Linked DNA regions of Homo sapiens: region 1 is linked to region 2. The links come from fine-mapping of genetic effects on gene expression. Tissue or cell type: whole blood. Region 2 holds a variant in brackets; the other region holds the start of a gene. All regions are shown on one strand. Distances are between the middles of the regions.

What was found. PIP is the estimated chance that this variant, and not a neighbour inherited with it, causes the effect.
Region 1: it holds the start of ERCC5, and the variant in region 2 is fine-mapped to the expression of ERCC5 in whole blood (Lepik 2017, PIP 0.95).

What each region holds. Positions count from the first base shown.
Region 1 is chr13:102,843,498-102,847,663 of GRCh38, reverse strand. It overlaps ERCC5 (ERCC excision repair 5, endonuclease), which reads right to left and starts at 1,632. Exons shown (of 15, transcript NM_000123.4): 1 at 1,310-1,632. The coding sequence starts at 1,397. All of the region lies in intron 9 of BIVM-ERCC5 (BIVM-ERCC5 readthrough), which reads right to left. RefSeq lists a silencer at 844-893 and enhancers at 1,055-1,877, 1,244-2,033, 2,244-2,293, 1,878-2,702.
Region 2 is chr13:102,707,902-102,712,067 of GRCh38, reverse strand. No RefSeq gene overlaps it. Among named protein-coding and RNA genes, the nearest start is that of METTL21C, 15 kb to the right of the region's middle. The variant C/T (reference allele first, on the strand shown) is at 1,880.

The DNA.
Region 1 (4,166 bases), 140 kb before region 2:
TTGGCTTTCCCCAATTCAAAGTACCCTGTATAAAAACTTTTAAGCCAAAAATCAATTACAGATTTATTTAAAGATTATTCACTTGCAAAAAATGATAATCTCATTATGTTTTAAAACTTATCAATGTCGTTTTATTTATAAGTTTTGTACCTACTGAAGAATTAGGGCTCCACAGTCAGGGATTCCTTTGCTGAACGCCCACACACTCTTGCACTCCATTTCCCGTCCCCAATCCCCCCGCAATCATTTACAGGACTCTTTCCACAAGCCCACGAGCCCCTAGACTCATAGATCCCCATTTAGGAAATTGGTGTAAGGTATCACCAGATTCTGAGCCAGAATAGATACTCAAAAAAAAAAAAAAAATGACTACATAACAAAGAAAAAGATAAAAATTTCAAAAGCAGTATCACGTTTTGCTAATGAAAAAAGAATTTAATTCCAATGACAAACAAAACCAGCCAAACATGTACAGAAACAATAGTCCTTAAAAAGTCAATTTAAAAAATGGGTAAAACACCTGTCCACACTATCCTTCCTCTAAGAAACATAAATGGGGCAAGACTCAAGCAAAACTAATCGTCGAAGTCTACTCTGCTCTCCTTACTGACCTCCCGGACAGGATAATAACTTTAAGATTTACTGTATTAATCGCACTAAACTTCTCTCATGTAGGCAATTTCTTTATTCCTCATTCCAATCCTGTGTGTAGATACTATCACCACCTCTACTTTGCAGATGAGAGAACTAAGGCAGAGAGGAACATAAAGCACTGCCACAAAGTGACAAACCAGGATGCACAGGCCGCTAAGACTGCAAAGCTGGGGAAAGCAGACAGGGCGGCCCGCCTCATCACCCGATTCCGCAATCAACCTACCACGGATCAAAAATATTTGCGATGGAAAAAAATAAATAAATAAAACATACCAATAAAAACTACAAAAAATTTTAAAATACAGTATAACAACTATTTACAGATCACTTACATTGCATTCGGCATTACAAGTAAGCTAGAAACGATTTAAAAGATTACGGAAGTGGGTAGTTTATATGCAAATACCACGCCATTATATAAGGGAGTTGAAGGAACTTGAACATCGTGGTATACGGAGGAGGGGCTGGAACCAAAGCCCCGGGGATACCGAGGGACGACTGTACTTAGAAAACCTAGTGACAGAGATTCTATAGCGACCCCGACCCCGACCCAAGACCATCATCCTGCAGATGCCACTGTGCCCAAGGCAGAGCCCCGCGAGGAATCCAGCCCCGAATCCCTGCACCCCAAGTCCCAACGCGGCGTTAAGGATACCAACAGCCAGGATCTTCCCTTCCAGCGCTTCGGGGCTGACCTGCCGCCCGGAGCACTCCAGCAGCTTCCAGAGCCCCTGGACCCCCATGAGGCGGCTGCGTCCTAAGAGCGGACCCCGACAACTTCTACTCTAATTCTTCTACGACGGACTGCACCGCCGCCTAGGACCCCGGGAGGAAGCCCTCCCTGCTCCTACACAACAAAGATGGCAAATAATACAGAAGCCACGGTTTTCCAGTGGGGGACGGCACTAATGGGAGCGCATTAAAGCGGAGAGACTCTGGCTGCAACACGTCTCAGCAGCTGTCACCGCCTCCCGGAAGAAAGACAGGTCCAGAGAATGGCCGTTGGCGGGGAGGGGCAGGGCCTCGCCTCGCCCAGCGCTTAGGCCCAAACGTCTGCGCCGCTAATGGAAGACCGGGGTGCAAGGGCCACGCAGGCGACGGAAACAGCCAGAAGATGTCCCTGCGACACCTCCCGCCTTCGCTGGTGGGTCCGCAAACCCATGAAAAATGGGCCCGCTCGGTTTCCGTCTAATACGACGCGCAGGGCGGAAGCTCCGCCTCCGCACATGACGTATATTTTCTGCGCTTGCAGCACTCCGGAAGTGAGAAGTTTAGCGCCAGTGGTGATGCCTTGGTGGTTACTTGCTTCCGTCACGCTGGCATCCTGAAGGCGTTAAGCATTAAAACAATGTGCAAAAGCGCCTTCTTGGTGGAGTAACGGGCTTTTGTTTTTGTTTGAGACAGGGTCTCACGCTGTCGCCCATACTGGAGTCCAGTGGCGCATTCTTAGCTCACTGCAGCCTGGAACTCCTGCTGCCCGAGCTCAAGCAACTTTCCCATCTCAGCCTCTCAAGTAGCTGGGACCGCAGGTGCGCACCACTATGCTTGGCGAATTATTTTTGTAGAAATGAGGTCTCCCTGTGTTGCCCAGGCTGGGAACTATTTTCTACACGCTTTTTTAGTATCGGTTTCTACCTTTGCGCCGCCGTGTGTGAAGATACTTAACACAAAGTGTTGTTTTACACGTGAAGAGACAACCAAAAGGTGGATGCCTTCTTGGTTTTGTACTATTTATTTATATGCTAGCACGTAGTAACTAAAGAATAATAAAATTTAAAGCCTGTGAAAATGTTAGGGTCCCAAAATTACTAAGCAAAAGGGAAAAGTCAAGCTGGGAACTGCTCAGGGCAAAACCTGCCTCCCATTCTAGTCAGTCATCCTTCTGCTCACTGAGATAGATGCATATTCTGATTGTCTCCTTTGGAAAGGCTTATCAGAAACTCGTATGCAGCCTTTTGTCTCTCATCTACCTGTGACCTAGAAGCCCTTCCTGCTTCCGAGTTGTCCCCACCTTTCTGGAAGGAACCAGTGTACTTACATATGTTGATTGATGTCTCCTGTCTCCCTAAAATGTATAAAACCAATCTGTGCCCCAACCACCTTGGGCACATGTCATCTGGACTTCCTGGGGCTGTGTCACAGCTGCGCGTCCTTAACGTTGGCAAAATAAACTTTCTAAATTAACTGAGACCTGTCCCAAATTTTGGGGGTTCACAAGCCTTAATCCTTGACATATAGTTTAGTTTTCTTCAGCATCTAAAAGTTATAATGCCGCGGCTTGTAGATCAGAAAGGACTAGAAATCAATTAACAGAGTAACCCCAGAAAAGGCCACAGCTCTGGAACCCTCAGGCCAAGATTCAAATCCCCGCATCGTGCCTCACTATGGTGTTTAGCATCCCTGAAGTCACAGTTGTTCAGAATTTGTGTCTCCATCAGTAATCAGGGCATAAAACCAACCTTGCAGACTTCAGTAAGTATTCAAGGTGTTACATGCAACGCACTTAGCACTAGTAACTATAAAGGATAGTATTAGCATCCATATTTGTTCAAATTGGAACGAAATTTAAACTCAGTGAAAAGGCTGACTTAAGGGAGCAGGCAATTTTTTAAAGACTTCTTTATAACAGAAGTATACGGGAAATTGATTTTTTTTATTTTTTTATTTTTTATTTTTTTGACAGGGTCTCACTCTGTCGCCCAGGCTAGAGTGCAGTAGTGCAGTCTCAGCTTACTGCAACTTCCACCTCTCAGGCTCAAGTGATGCTCTTGCCTCAGCCTCCCGAGTAGTTGAGATTACAGGCCCCCACCACCACGCCCTGATTTTTTTTTTTTTGAGACAGGGTCTTGCTTTGTTGCCCAAACTGGTCTCAAACAATCCTCCTGCCTCAGTCTCCCAAAGTGCTGGAGTTACAGACATGAGCCACCGTGCTCCGTGGAGAAATCCATTTTTAGCAAAACCACTTCTATGCTCAATAAGATGGTTCACAGTGGCCATGTTTGGTTGACCTAGTCACATCTAATTTGCTACAGGAATAATCCTGACAAAGTGTTTTTTGCATTTCCTCCATATGTAAAGTAATCCCCAGAAACTGTTCCCAGTTGTTATTTTACTGAGAGTAATATAACTGCCTGTTCAGTATTTGTCTCTTCCCCATGGTAAACTGTAAACTTACTGAAACGAAGAACGATTTTCGTGACTGCTACATCCCCCAATCCTGGCACTTAGCAGTTCTGTAAATATTGCCTAAATGACCTCTTAAGCCTCTAGTCTAAAGCTCTCCAGTGCACCTTGCAGTCTGCTGAAAGAATCTGCTTGGAGGTTAGGCTGATCATTCATTCAGATCTCATCTGAACCATATGTTGCCTTGTGTTATGGTCTGAATTGTGTCCTCCAAAATTCATCTGTGGAAGCCTGAGTACCTCAGAATGTGACTATCTGAAGACACAGCGTTTAAAAATGATTAAATTGAAACGAGGCCATTAGGATAGGCCCTAAATCCAATTTGACTG
Region 2 (4,166 bases):
ATTTGTACATCTTTTAGACATTGGTTTTGGATTTTTAATGATGGTTTAAAAAGTTTTCTTAATTCTCAAGTCATAAAGAAATTAACACATGCCTTCTAGTACTTATAGCTACATTATTTACATTTAGATTTCATCCATTTGGAATTTATTCCTGTGTATTTTTTCCCACATAGCTCAATATTATTTATGAAATAATTCAAAACTTCCCCATGACTTGAGATAATACCTTCACTATTTATTAAACTTCCATAACCATATATGTCTGTTTCCAGTTGTGCTATTCAAATGCGAACTTTGGCCTGTTTTTCTATCACATATCAATACCATGAAGCTTTGAATATAGAAGTTTTATAATGTTTTAAATAACTGATGGGATTAGCCTCCCACATTGCGCTTTTTCCAAAATTTTCTTTGATAGTCTTGTTTATTAATTTTACTTATTTATTCATTTATTTTTTGAGACAGAGTCTCGTTCTGTCGTCTAGGATGGAGTGCAGTGGCATGATCCTGGCTCACTGCAGGCTCTGCCTCCCAGGCTCAAGCGATTCTCCTGCCTCAGCCTCCCAAGTGTCTGGGGTTATAGGCGTGCACCACCACGCCCAGCTAATTTTTGTATTTTCAGTAGGGACAAGGTTTAGCCATGTTGGCCAGGCTGATCTTGAACTCCTGACTTCAAGTGATCCACCTGCCTTGGCCTCCCAAAGTGCTGGGATTATAAACATGAGCCACCTTGCCTAGCCTATTAATTTTTTTTAAAATACAAACCCTATAATCTAGCTCCAGAGGGCAAAATCAGCGTTTTTAATGGAATTGCATCAAATTTATATAGTAAGGGGGAAATTACATCTTAAGGAATTAAGTCCTCCTATCAAGAACGTATTATGTTTTTCCAATTGTTTAAGTCAACTTTGTGTCTTTTATTAGTGTGGCCTATAATGGCATTTCAGTCAATAATGAGCCACGTACATGACCAAACTACCTGGCTAAGGAGTGTGGACCAGGAATACGGTCAGAAATCTTTTAAATCAAGTTTTTAGGAGGCTGCTCCAATGATCAACAACATCAGATGCCTGTGGGTGGTAAGGAGAGAAAGGGCCATCAAGTAGCTATTTGCTGGTGGTTCACAGAGCTGAAAATATGGCAAAGATTATCTTCAAGGGCCACAATGATGTGGCCAGAGTTGGTTAATGGAACTAGAACAATAACACCACCACCTGAAAAGGTGTCAAGAGTAGCAGGGCACCACCATAGTCCCATGAAGGGCCCAAAGGTCAGGCTGTGGGCGGCAGCAGGGAAAGCATCCCTGCCACGAGGCCACACCATTGTGAGACAAGTAGGTCAACTTGTGGCAGGAGCTCCAGTGGGAGCCCCCGCATCATAAACATGGAGTCCTGCACGTTGTGCCATCCACAGTGGTGGGTGCGTTCCCACATCCAGCACAGCGATGGGTCCAGAGAGCAACGTGGCCATCTGCTTAGTGCAGGCTCCACCGGCAGCTTGGCTCTAATCGGTCTCATCAGAGAAGGGGCCTTGATCATTTCCATCTATGTGAGTGACCCAGATGTTTCTCTCAGCAGTCACGATTTGTTTCCACAGTTTGTGACCTGCAAACGGGATGCTGTTCATCTGGAATCTGTAGTTTTCCAAGTGGCTGACCAAATGCTTAGCCGTTGACAACAGCCCAAGAATGACTAAAAATAGGGCAAGTTGCATCAAGGGCAGTCTTGGCCAGACCTGCAAGAACAGCCATGCATTCTGCCTTCTGAGCAGACAGCTCACATCTGTTTTTGGATCTGTGTAGTCACAGCAGCTCAGGGGACACCACTGGGGTTCAGCTTGGAAAAACCATCAGTGACCCAGGCCCATGCATTTAGGGGAA[C/T]CTCTGTAAAGTGAGGGCCCCATGGAGCCACAGCTTCGCCTCAGGTGGTGAATAGGAGATAAAATTTCCCTCAGAGGGCTTGTGCCCACTGTTTTGTGTACAGCCGAGATGCTGCTGGGGCCAGGCTGTCCAAATTCCATTTTCCAGCCTAGGCTTGTTGGACCCTTCTCACCATGTTAGCGATTGAGTCTGAGTTTAAACAGACCAGAGAGTCACAAGGCCTTTATAGGTCAGGTGTGCAGTTTCAATTAGAGGACAAGACCAAGCTGATAGCTGATTTTCAGAAGGAGTATGCCTGGTAGTCACAACAGGGAAGTGACAAGTTCAACACTTCTGGGCATGTGTTTGGGTGGAGGGTGTCTCCCATTGCCAGGGACCCCATTTGGCATAATCATTGGTCACCATGACCTGAAGCTCAAAGGAACCAGGAGTGTGTGAATCTCCAAGGGTGCTAGCATGTCTCTACATGTGGCTTTTCCCAATCAGAATCATCCCCTCTGGCACTTGCAGGACAGAGAGTACAGGCATATCAGTTCCTATCATACCTCTAGATGTAGAAGAAGCTACAGCAGCTATACTGATTAATTTTATACCTTACAAGAAAAATATAAATTTTATATTCCTATTGAAAGGACCCTTTGTATCTATTTCTGCTTGGGTCCAATCAGGAGAAAGAAACCAGACAGTAATTTAAACAGGGAAAGTTGAATATAAAAGAATTAGGTATAACAAGGGATTGGAATAATGAGGCATTGACTAGTAAAACAAGAACCCTAAAAAGTGTGGAAATAACAAATATAAGCAGCAGCCTCTATGCTTAAGTCTGAGATAGAAGTTGCCTGTCCCCTCAAAAGGGCTGAGATCCAGAGCCTATTGAGAGGATGTGGCCATGGCTCACTGGATTGTGGAGAAGTCCCTGTGGTGCTGTGCTAGTCACATTAGTCAGAAATCTGCCCCAGACGGTTCTGGGAAAGCTGCTTGTAGGGAAGGGCTGAGCTACGAAACTACTCAAGGATGCTGGTAGGGAGGTGAGTTGCTGCTGCTGGGTGCTGCTGGCTGCCATGCCTTGCAGAGGCTGAGAACTAGAGAGGTTATGAGCTCTGCAGGAGCTGGGTCCTGGGGAAACCATGTGCTCTAAAGGAGCTGGACACTGGGGAAGCTGCCAGTCTGCAGGAGCACACCTGAACCAAGGGGCAAAACCCTCTCCTTCTGTCTAGTCTACTGACAAAGTTTAGCATTGTTCCAGCTGGCAAAGTATTGAAAGGGCCCACATCTGTTTGCATAGAGCAGGCAAAAAAGGGTGAATTTGGAGCTGAAAGGTGGTAAGTGCATGACTGACACAGTGTATCTGTTGGAAGGGACCTCTACTTGTATCTATATCTTTAAAAAATAACTGGAAGCAAATAGGAGAAAATATTAAGTTAAAATTCTATGTGGTGGGAATTTTGGTATTTATTATATTAGTTTTATAACTTTCTATATGTTTTAAATTTAGCGAAGAAAAATCTTGGTGAGAAAAAGTGATCGGTATATAGCAGTTCAATCTTTTCTAAAGGAGTGAGTATAAGAGTATTAAGCATCTCTCTACTTAAAAAGAAACTGATCTGCATGAATTTTTAAAACTTGTGTGACCTAAATTCTGTTGAAGAAATAAAAAGAAGTTGTTCCCAGTGTTCATTCGTACATTCATTCATTCTTTAAACATTTAATGAGCATTTTTTCCATGCCAGTAACCAGACCAGGTACAAGGTCTCAACCCTCATGTTCCTTACAGTCCAGTGGGTAGGAGGCAGAGGCAGATTCTCAGATAATTAAAGTGGACCTGATGCAGGTGATGCCTAGTTGTGAGGCAGGAAATAGTAAGAATTATCTAGGTAAAGAGAGGCAGGAAATATTTTCCAGAGAACAAAATAAATGTCTGGGAAGGAAAACGTCTAGCCCAGCTTGTCACTTATAAAATAATTAAACCAAGAGAATGGAAAATGTTATACTCTAAATAAGGAATGTCTGTAGAGATGAGCTCTATTTTAAATAAAATGATTAGTAAGTTTGATGGAGTCAAAGTTTTTATAAATGATCTATGAACCTACAGCTCCTATTTTGCCAGGAAAGCTAAAAAAAGAGGTTCTATTTGGGCCTCAGTCCGTTTCCTGGCTATCTTCTAATGTTGATGGTTTTAAGTGGTTGGGATAACTTGGCATGCATTTCAGACTAGAATCAACACATTCTGGGACAGGTGACATAGACAGCTTTCATGAGATGAGCCTTTTATCACATTCATCTTCTC